3 linked regions of the Homo sapiens genome follow. The protein of the gene in region 1 purifies or fractionates together with the protein of each later gene. This does not show direct contact. Each region holds a gene or a part of one and is shown in the gene's direction. Other genes may lie near its edges.

Region 1 (3,749 bases):
AGGCGTGAGCCACCGCGCCCAGCCTATTTTTATTTTTTTTTTTGAGACGGAATCTCGCTCTGTCACCCGCCCAGGCTGGAGTGCAATAGCCCGATCTCGGCTCGCTGCAACCTCCGCCTCTCGGTTTCAAGTGATTGTTTCGTCTCAGCCTCCTGAGAAGCTGGGATTACAGAAGTGCACCACCACGCCCGCCTAATTTTTGAATTTTTAGTAAAGACGGGGTTTCACCATTTTGGTCAGGCTCGTCTCGAACTCCAGACCTCGTGATCCGCCCGCCTCGGCCTCCCAAAGTGCTGGGATTACAGGCATGAGCCACTGCGCCCGGCTATTTTTTTATTTTTTTTGAGACGGAGTCTCACACTGTTGCCCAGGCTGGAGTGCAGTGGCGTGATCTCGGCTCACTGCAACCTCTGCCTCCAGGGTTCACGCCATTCTCCTGCCTCAGCCTCCCGAGTAGCTGGGACTACAGGCGCCCGCCACTACACCCGGCTAATTTTTTTTTGTATTTTTAGTAGAGAGGGTTTCGCCGTGTTAGCCTGGATGGTCTCGATCTCCTGACCTTGTGATCAGCCCGCCTCGCCCTCCCAAAGTGCTGGGATTACAGGCGTGAGCCACCGCGCCTGGCCTCTTCTTCTTCTTTTGTTTTTGTTTTTTGTTTTTTTGAGACGGAGTCTCGCTTTGTTCCCCAAGCTGGAGTGCAGTGGCGCGATCTCTGCTCACTGCAACCTCCGCCTCCCGGGTTCACTCCATTCTCCTGCCTCAGCCTCCCAAGTAGCTGGGACTACAGGCGCCCACCACCACGCCCGGCTAATTTTTTGTATTTTTAGTAGAGACGGGTTTCACTGTGTTAGCCAGGGTGGTCTCGACATCCTGACCTCGTGATCCACCAGCCTCGACCTCCCAAAGTGCTGGGATTACGGGCGTGAGCCACCATGCCCGGCCCACGCCCGGCCTCTTTTTTAAAATACAGACAGTGTCTCGCCATGTTACCCAGGCTGGTCTTGAACTGGGCTCAAGCAATCCTCCCGCCTCGGCCTCCAAAGTGCTAGGATTGATGACAGGCAAGAGCCAATGCACCTGGCCCCTTTAAAACTTTTTTTTTTGAGGCAGAGTTTCACTCTTGTTGCCCAGGCTGGAGTGCAATGGCACGATCTTGGCTCACTGCAACCTCCGCCTCTCAGGTTCAAGGGATTCTACTGCCTCAGCCTCCTGAGTAGGTGGGATTACAGGCGCCTGCCACCACGCCCGGCTAATTTTTTTGTATTTTTAGTAGAGACGGGGTTTTACCATAATGGCCAGGCTGGTCTCAAACTCTTGACCTCAGGTTATCCGCCTGCCTCCGCCTCCCAAAGTGCGGGGATTACAGGCGTGAGCCACCATGCCCGGTCCCCTATAAAACTTTTAATGTCTGGATAATATTTTACTGAATGAATGTCTCCTGCTTTGCTTGCCAATTCCCTATCGATGGATATTTAGGTTGTTTTCAACTTTTCACATCATTACAAACAATCTCATGTTCATTTTTTAACATAACAACGTTTATTTATTTGGAATACATTTTTGTTAGTGGAATTGCTGGGTCATTGACAAATTGTCTAGGTCTAATTAAACATGTTCATACTGTGTACCAAGAGGAGATGTAGCGTGGATGGCACCAAAGTCAGGGAAGTCTTTCCGGCTCCTGGTCTGCTGGTCTGCCCTTTTGAAGGCCTTGGAGTGTTACAGCCATACCCTGGCCTTTCCCAGGCTTTTCTTTCCCTGGCACGGATGCAGTGTGTGCGGTCAGAGCTGGCGAGTTCGAGACTTGTCCGAACCATCCACCCGCAGCCAGGCCCCGCTGCAGAGGCTGCGGTGGCCCTCCCAGCCCCTGGGAATCTATCCCCAGGTCCCCTCCCCGACCGCGGGAGGGCGTGTTAGGGGAGCAGCTTAGGCAAGCGACGATTGCACCATCCACGTTTTGAAAAGAAAGTCCGGGGAGCGCAAGGAGGAAACTTTTACAATCCAAAGGTTGAGCCCCAGCATCCATACTCGGCCCCTGCAGCGATCCTTCCACTCCTGCTCGCTGGGTTCCGATCCCTTCCCTTCCACCCCGTCTCGGCCGAACCCTGTGCTGGGCACTGGCCCTTTAAGGAGCTGTCACGATGGCGTCGCTGGCCCCGCCCGGCGGGGAGGGCCGAGAGGCAGGGGAGGGGTTGGTGGTGGCTGCGGGCAAGGGGAAGGCGGGGGGGGCTGGGGGGGGGGTCTGGGTCTATTTTTAGCTCCGGGTCGGGTCACGTGACGGGAGTGACGTCTCCGAATGTTGTTGTTGGTGGCGGCGGCGAGCGGAGCCGGAGGAGCCGCCGCAAAGATGGAGGAGCCGTCGAGGAGGTGCTGCCGCCGCTGCCGCCGCCGCTGCTGCCGCCGCCGCCCGCGAAGCCGGAGCTCGAGCCGCAGCGGGTGAGCGCGCCGCCCCGGCCCAGATCCCATCTTCCCCGGACCCCGGGACGCGAGGCGGCGCCCCCTCCTCCTGCTGTCTCTGTCCGCGGGCTCCCAGCGCGCGCGCCGCGCTCCGCGCCCCCCTTCCTTCCTCCCGGCCCTGGGAGCCAGCCGGCGCCCCCCGGGAGCATCGGCAGCCCGTGAGCGGGACATCGGGGTTGCTGCGCGCGCCCCTCCCTGCCCCTCCCAGACAGGGGCGCCTTCCCTACAGGTAAGGGAGGGGCCCGCCTTCTCGCGCCCTGCGCCCCCAAATGGCTCGGAGACCGGCCGGGGTTGTCTGATTTGCCCCTTCCCTGGCGGCGCATGTTGCGTTGCAGAGCCATTTGAGCCCTGCACCCGGATTCTGTGCAGACCCCTCTTCGCTGGACACCCCTTTCTTGGTACTCTGAGGTGAGGGGTGCTGTCCACCCAGAGCGCTTCTCCCCATAGCTACGAACGCATCCTTGATTTTATGTCCTTGACTTCCGTGCATGAGGAGGGGGACTGCGGAGTCCACCTTACTTCTCTCTCCCATTATTCTCACCCCGTCTCCTGTGAGGCGTTACTGCGTTTGTTGCCACCCTCTTCTCCTGTCTGACACCTTGGAGCCAGGATGCGAGAGCTAGGAGATGAAATGGAGCTCCCCCCCAACCCCTTCTTGTCTTGGGTGGATGCCCCCCATTTTTCATCCTGGATCTGTATCTCATGGAAGCGGGGGCACTACCAGTGCCTTATTAACTTGGGGGGAGTCAGCTTCTCCACCCCACCCTTCCCTGGGGCCCTGGGGAAGATGAGAACTGGCTGGGTGTAAGTAATTAATCTGGGAGCTTGGTGGGGGCTGTTGAAGTGGGGAGGTTGGGTGCTTCCTTTGGGAGAGGAGATGACCACTTGATACCCCTGGCTGATACCCCTTCTGAAATGAGGTGTGTCCCTAAAGAGGAAAGGTAACAGCTGCAGTTGCTTTTAGGAGGGTGCAAAAGGGACCCATCACTCAGTCAGTGACCACCATGCTTTTGGGATCTGGGATTAGATTTGGAGCTTGGGGAGGTGGTGGTGATTGGTTTCAGTGTCCAACTGGGAGGGGAGGATGGAGCCAGATTATGGGAACAAAAGGAGGTGGGGGGGAGGGTGAGATCCAGGAGTCTTGGTCAGAGGGACCCCTAGCCAGATTGCCTTGCAGGATTGCAGTCTGGGTCTGGGTCCTGCCTTTGGCTTCCTCTTAGTTTCAGAGGATGTAGGCAGGCAGGCATGGTCTTCAGTCTCCCCAGTCCTAGGCACCCTGAGCCTATGCTGGC
Region 2 (3,749 bases), on another chromosome or scaffold:
TATTAGAGAACATTTGTAGAGCTCTTCAGAGCTGACGGTGAACATGGCACAAAATAGTTGACAATGAACACTGTCATTAATCTGTCACTTACTTTTGATTTAGAACATTCTGTGAATACCCCAATTCTGGAAATAAACATGTATTAAAGTTCTACCCTCTGTACAGGGGCACCTCAGGTCATGTTGTGGAGTAGGAAAAAGGAATAAATTGAGTGAAGGACTTTAGTACCTCTAAGAACTCATGTACTGGCCAGGTGCAGTGGCTCATGCCTGTAATCCCAGCACTTTGGGAGGCCAAGGTGGGCGGATCACTTCAAGTCAGGAGTTAGACACCATCCTGACCAACATGGAGAAACCCCATCTCTACAAAACATACAAAATTAGCCAGGCATGGTGGTGCATGCCTGTAATCCCAGCTACCCGGGAGGCTGAGGCAGGAGAATCGCTTGGACCTGGGAGGCAGAGGTTGTGGTGAGCCGAGATTTGCCATTGCACTCCAACCTGGGCAATAAGAGTGAAACTCCGTCAAAACAAAAAAAAAAAAAAAAAGAGGAATACAGGTAGAGGCACATAAGGATTCATATCATTCAGATAATTTAGGTAGGAGGACTCCCCAGTCATTGCGTCTCTCCCCTCTTCTCCAACTTTCAGAATCTAAGATCAGCAGAAGCAGCAGGCTGTGCAGCTCCAATACTACTCCCGTGACCCCTGCCCTCCCTGGGCCCCCGAGGTCACTCTCCCTTAACGCTTATCTCTTGTTCCTACTAGTTTTTCGTCTGCCTACACACAGAGGACACCTACCCTTCCTGTCTACTTCTGTTGCTCTGCTCCTTTCTGATTCATTGCTTCTGCTTCCCACCCGTACTGCAAAGCTTAGCCATTTAAGGAAGCCAGACTCCCCAGAACACTGCTTAAGTGCTTACAGTTATATTAAATAGAAAAATAAAAGAATCAATGAAGATGCTCAAAGAGGAACGTGTACTTTGCACATATCATAGTGGACTTGTCCTAGGAGAATCAGAACTCTAGCCGAACTCATGTAATCCTTAAAGCTCGTGCTGTGATTATTGATTAAAAGAGAACAGCTGAGACCTTTGACACTTCAGAGGCCAGTGGTCTGTGCAGTCAGTCTGGCTTCTCTAACAGGGAAAGGCATGTAAGGAAAAGGAAATGAGACAGCCTGGGACACAAGTTCAAGTATGAACAATACTATCACATGTTCCATAGTGCCTATCAAACAAGTGTATGTCGTCATATTAGTCGCCTCCTTAGCCTCTGGCCCTCCCATAATACTCAAAGCCATCTGGCTATCTGCTCTTATTTGCAAGTAATCAGGAAAAGTAAAGTAAGAGGGTTGATAATATGAGCTTTGTGAACCCCAACTATCTCCATGTGCTTCAGCTCTGACCAGGAGAGAGCAACGTGGGAGGTGAGGTCTATTCGAAGTTGCCAGACTTGACCAGTTAACAGTGCAACGGTTTGAAGAACAATGACTCTAGCCCTTTAGAGGTTAAAGGCTATTGGGTAGATGTGTAGGCGTCTGCTCAGATCACATTCATAATAAACTTGCAATTCCATGACTCCATTATGCTGTATGATTTGACCCAAGGCATCAGAATCAAAGAGACCCATCAGATGCCTGAGGCAGAGATCAAAACAGGCAAAGTAGAAAAAGGACTCTCTAAGAAATGAGTTATCATCATCAGAGCTCCTGGTTCTATATCCAGTTGATGCCAGGCTTTCCTTGCAAATGGGTAGTGAGAGGACAACTACAACAATGTAGACTCACCCACAACCCCTTCTGCTGCTCACCACCCAGCATCCATCTGTGAGGTTTCTGAGCAGTGAGCCATTTGAGGTTTTAAATTTCATTTTACGTACAATTTTATCACTGAGATTTTTTTTTCTAAAATAAAGAAGCATTTAATTTTTTTCTCTCTTCAGCTGTTAGCACATTTAAGTTAGTTCCTGCTTTTTTTGTTTAGGTGGTTTTTGTTCATGATGATTTTTCTTCTCTTGCTCATTGGGATATAAGTGGAATATATAATTTTTTTTTAATGTTAGGATTTGTTGTTGTGCAGAGAAAAAAGGTAAAGGTCAAATGATCAAAGGCATTTGTTGATGACCCAGAAGAACGTTCAGATTTAAGCATTATTACAAGAGATCGTCTAATGCTAAGCGTAATTTTACTTGACATGTGGCAATTAATGTGTCAAGCAAAATGCTGCTTACCATTACTAGTCATTACTTTATTGTGGAAAGACAGCAGTCCCTTGGTATCCGCATGGGATTTGTTCCAGAACCACCGCACCACATATCAAAATCCACGCATACTTACATCCCACATTTGGCTCTGCAGAACTTCCCTCTAGGAAAAGTTGGTCCTCCTCATCCTCAGGTTTTTGGATCCGGTGAACACGGTATTTTCAATACTCACTTGGTTGTGGATGCAGAACCCACAGATACCAAGGGCCAACTGTACTTATCGAAAAATATCCACATGTAAGTGGACCCACACAGTTCAAATTTGTGTTTCTCAAGGATTAGCTATATTTATTGCGTGCTTGAAAACCAAGCAGGTAGGATGGTATTGTAGACAAAGCACAGGCTCACTTTTTTTTTGTTGCTATTTTTATGATCTTCACTTAGTATAAGAGTTTCTGTCAAAAACTGCAGCCTCCAGTACCAGTAGCAAAGCATTTCTAAAAGGTTTTGACTAAGGTACTTAATCAGTGCATGGCCCGATGCACTACATGTATGAATTTCATCTTTACTACATTAGATTTCTACCAATTGTATATAAATAGCCTAGTATGCTTAGTTAGGACAATATGTTTAATATTGGGGATGATCCTAAGAAATTATAGATTTCTCAATATGGTATTCTAATTAAAACCTAATTAGCAATTCACTGTGCTAGAACTTGGATTTTTTTCACATAGAAATAATTTCACTACGCATAGAAAGTAAAGATGTATTTTTTGGAGACATTAGAATTTCAAAAATATAAGGCAGCACATGTGGAATGTAGAGGTGTTAAAAATCTTAAGTGTGGGTTTCTCTATAGCTCTAAGCTTGAACAGTTTTGTATAATCAGCGAGCTTGCCAAACAGTATCAAAAAACTCATTTTCTTCAAGTGCTTTATTTATCTTTAATAGAACCTTCATCACCCTGGTGTTGTAAATTTGGAGTGTATGTTTGAGACGCCTGAAAGAGTGTTTGTTGTTATGGAAAAACTCCATGGAGACATGCTGGAAATGATCTTGTCAAGTGAAAAGGGCAGGTTGCCAGAGCACATAACGAAGTTTTTAATTACTCAGGTAAGAAATCAATTAGAGACGGAAAAAATACAATATTTAATATCAAATGTTATCACTGTTTAACTACAGCTTTCTAGCCTTGTTGTTTAGTCCCTACCTCCAGTCTAAACTACACTAGAAAAGGTTGTAGTGGCTTTATTGTATTATGTGATTTATATCTATATTAATCAGAGTCCACAGTGTACCAAATTAGTAACATGTTTGCAGGTCCATGTATTCAAACTTTTCATGAAATTTTAAAATGTACATTGGTTTAGTTTTGGTTCTTTGAGAATATTTAAGAATGGGTGTCCCTGTTAGATATAGGTCTTTTATCTACATCTGTCTTGGCCGCTGTATGAATACCATCATATGGTAATTTTTTCATTGAAATTTCTTTAGAAACCTATGTTAATCTAGCTCATTTCAGTGTCTTTAACATAAAGAAA
Region 3 (3,749 bases), about 43 Mb from region 1:
TATGAAATAGTACAAGAAAGTGGGGAAGAAAGGCCGGGCGGGGTGGCTCACGCCTGTAATCCCAGCACCTTGGGAGGTCGAGGCGGGTGGATCACCTGAGGTCGGGAGTTCAAGACCAGCCTGGCCAACATGGTGAAACCCTGTCTCTACAAAAATAAAAAAATTATCCGGGCATAGCTACTGAGGAGGTTGAGGTGGAAGAATCACTTGAACCCGGGAGGTGAAGGTTGTAGTGAACCAGGATTATGGCATTACACTACAGCCTGGGCAACAGAGCGAGACTCTTGTCTCCAAAAAAAAAAAAAAGAGGCCAGGTGCGGTGGCTCATGCCTGTAATCCCAGTACTTTGGGAGGCCAAGGCGGGTGGATCACCTGAAGTCAGAAGTTCGAGACCAGCCTGACCAACATGGAGAAACCCCGTCTGTAGTAAAAATACAAAATTAGCCGGGGGTGGTGGGTGCCTGTAATCCCAGCTACTTGGGAGGCGGAGGCAGGAGAATCACTTGAACCCGGGAGGCCGAGGTTGCGGTGAGCCGAGATTGCGCCATTGCACTCCATCCTGGGCAACAGCAACAATAAAAAACGGGGAATATAGAGGGGAAAAGTTTACCCGTTTTTGGGGAGCAGAGGGGTAACATAAACTACATTTGGGCTTGTGGGGCTGTTGTTGGTTTTGTCCTTTCCTAGTCTCTTCCCTATCAAGATTGGCTTCATGGAAGGTAGGATGAAGTTTTGATGGTCATGTTGGATTCCCTAGGAATGCATCTGTTGAGTCATTTACTTGAGAGCTGTCTTTTTTTTCTTTTGAGACGGAGTCTCGCTCTGTCTCCCAGGCTTTATTGAAGTGGCACAATCTCGGCCCACTGCAACCTCCGCCTCCAGGGTTCAAGCGATTCTCCTGCCTCACCCTCCCGAGTAGCTGGGACTACAGGCATGTGCCACCATGCCATGCTAATTTTGTATTTCTTTTTTAGTAGAGACACGGTTTCTCCATGTTGGTCAGGCTGGTCTCGAACTCCCGACCTCAGGTGATCCGCCCACCTCAGTCTCCCAAAGTGCTGACATTAAGGACCTGAGCCACCGCGCCTGGTCAAGAGCTGTCTTTTTTTTGAGACGGAGTCTTGCTCTTGTCGCCCAGGCTGTAGTGCAATAGCGCGATCTCGGCTCACTGCAACCTCCATCCCCTGGGTTCAAGCGATTCTCCTGCCTCAGCCTCCAAGAGTAGCTGGGATTACAGGCATCCGCCACTATGCCAGGCTAATTTTGTATTTTTAGTAGAGATGGGGTTTCGCCATGTTGGCCAGGCTGATCTCGAACTCCTGACCTCAGGTGATCCGCCCGCCTCGGCCTCCCAGAGTGCTGGGGTTACAGGCGTGAGCCACTGAGCCCGCTGAGAGCTGTCCTTTTAAAACACCAGATCCTCATCTCTAGCTAGCTTATTCTGCTAGTTAGTGAAGAACAGGGAAGGGAGCATGTGTGGAATGAACTTTTTACTACGGTCTTGTTAGGAAAAAAATAGGTAGTAGTAAATTAACGTTGTTAATAAGTTTAGAAGTATTTAGATTAACTACCAGTTCTTTGACTGTAGGCCAGTAATTTTCCATTGCCGTTTCAGTTAATGGACTAACTTTCTGGAGTAAAGTTTATTTTTCTCCTTCTTAAATGCATAGACAGAACTGAGTAACGTAGTGTTAAAAATCCCTTCTACGACTGGGCTCTGTCCCCCAGGCTGGAGTGCAATGGCGTGGTCTTGGCTCACTGCAACCTCCGCCTCCCAGGTTCAAGCGGTTCTCCTGGCTCAGCCTCCCAAGTAGCTGGGACTACAGGCGCGTGCCACCACACTCGGCTAATTTTTTGTATTTTTAGTAGAGACGAGGTTTCACCATGTTGGCCAGGATGGTCTTTATCTCCTGATCTCAGGTGATCTGCCCACCTCAGCCTCCCAAACTGCTGGGATTACAGGTGTGAGCCACCGCACCCAGCCAATTTTTGTGTTTTTGGTAGAGACAGGGTTTTACCATGTTTGCCAGGCTGGTCTTGAACTCCTGACCTCAGGTGATCTGCCTGCCTCGGCCTCCCAAAGTGTTGGAATTACAGGCGTGAGCCACCACACCCGGCCTGATTGTTTTTTTTTTTCATGGATGACTGTAAGGGTGACTGATACTGCAGGCATATTTTTTCTTTATATTTCAAGAACACTGTGTACACAAACAGTAATGACAAGCATGGAGTAAAGGCTGCAGTTTTATTTTTATTTATTTTTTTGAGACAGTCTTGCTCTGTCACCTAGGGTGGAGTGTAGTGGTAGGATCTCGGCTCACTGCAGCCTCTGCCCCCTGGGTTCAAGCGATTCTCCTGCCTCTGCTTCCCGAGTAGCTGGGACTACAGGCGCCCGCCATCGCACCTGGCTAATTTTTGTATTTTTAGTAGAGATGGGGTTTCACCATGTTTGCCAGGCTGATCTCTGACTCCTGACCTCAGGTGATCCTCCCGCCTCAGCCTCCCAAAGGGCTAGCATTACAGGTATGAGCCACTGTACCTGGCCTAAATTTTTAATTTTTTAATGGGCACATATTAGGTGTATGTATTTATGGGAAGGCTAAATTAAAAAAAAATTTTTTTTTGAAACAGGGTCTTGCTTTGTGACCCAGGCTGAAGTGCAGTGTCGCCATTATAGCTTACTGCAGGCTCGACCTCCTGAGTTCCAGTGACCCTCCTGCCTCAGCTTCCCTAGTAGCTGGGACTGTTGCACCGGCCTAATTTTTGTGTTTTTTTTTTTTTTTTTTTTTTTTTGTGGATTTGAGGTCTCTATGTTGCCCAGGCTGGTCTTGAATTCCTGGACTCCCACCTTGGCCTCCCAAAGTGCTGGGATTACAGGTGTGAGTCACTGCTTCTGGCCTAAACTTTACATATGTGTATATGACATTATGCAGTACCTCAGTTCACAGCCCACGTTGACAAAAGTTTTTAATTTATGTAACAAGATTGAAGCAGGTAGAGCGTTACTCCCATTTTCTGGTTCAAGAAAGTGAGTTTGAGAGAGAGATTTTTTTATGATCATGTGGCTAATCAGTTATTAAATGGTAAAGCCAGAACTTAGTGTCTGCTGACCTTTAGATCGGTACACTTACTCTCAGCCACTCAAAAGACCTCTGTGAAGTAAGGTGGTGCCTTTCAGGGGAGTAGGGGGTGAGTAGCGTATGCTTGATGCTTGTTCTTTAACAATTCTAATAGCATCTACTTCACATCTTGATGTTTGTGATGACTGATATCCATGGTGAATTGTAGACAAAATCTTTTCACTTTCCTAAAGAAACCTGATGGTTTTTTTCAGAGATAAAATCCCATCTCAAGGCACAGCGAAATTAAAATGAGGTGAAGTTTAGGTACTCTCAGAATGTTTATTCGCATACAGATTCTTAAAAAACATGATTTATTGTAGGCAGATGTCACCTCTTTAAGCAAAAGAAAAAAACAACCAAAAAAAGAAAAGCCCCAGCCGGGTTCCGCGGCTCAAACACCTGCAATCCCAGCACTGTGGGAGGCCGAGGTGGGCGGATCACCTGAGGTCAGGAGTTTGAGACCATCCTGACCAACATGGTGAAAACCAGTCTCTACTAAAAATACAAAAATTAGCTGGCCTGTGATGGCTTGTGCCTTTAGTCCCAGCTACTGAGGAGGCTGAGGTGGGAAATCGCTTGACCCTGGGAGGTGGAGATTGCAGTGAGCCCACATCGCACCATTGCACT

Evidence for each region.
Region 2: the proteins of HDAC5 (region 1) and PRKD1 purify together in Homo sapiens (affinity purification with western blotting; 4 studies listed by BioGRID, with this or other methods). This does not show direct contact.
Region 3: the proteins of HDAC5 (region 1) and YWHAE purify together in Homo sapiens (affinity purification with western blotting; 7 studies listed by BioGRID and IntAct, with this or other methods). This does not show direct contact.

What each region holds. Positions count from the first base shown.
Region 1 is NC_000017.11:44,122,191-44,125,939, reverse strand, and holds the start of HDAC5 (histone deacetylase 5), read left to right. Parts: upstream 1-2,298; 5' UTR 2,299-2,436; exon of another isoform or gene 2,437-2,686; intron 2,687-3,749. UniProt on the Homo sapiens protein: Responsible for the deacetylation of lysine residues on the N-terminal part of the core histones (H2A, H2B, H3 and H4).
Region 2 is NC_000014.9:29,599,228-29,602,976, reverse strand, and holds part of PRKD1 (serine/threonine-protein kinase D1), read left to right. Parts: intron 1-3,159; coding exon 3,160-3,321; intron 3,322-3,749.
Region 3 is NC_000017.11:1,393,481-1,397,229, reverse strand, and holds part of YWHAE (14-3-3 protein epsilon), read left to right. Parts: intron 1-3,749. UniProt on the Homo sapiens protein: Adapter protein implicated in the regulation of a large spectrum of both general and specialized signaling pathways. Binds to a large number of partners, usually by recognition of a phosphoserine or phosphothreonine motif.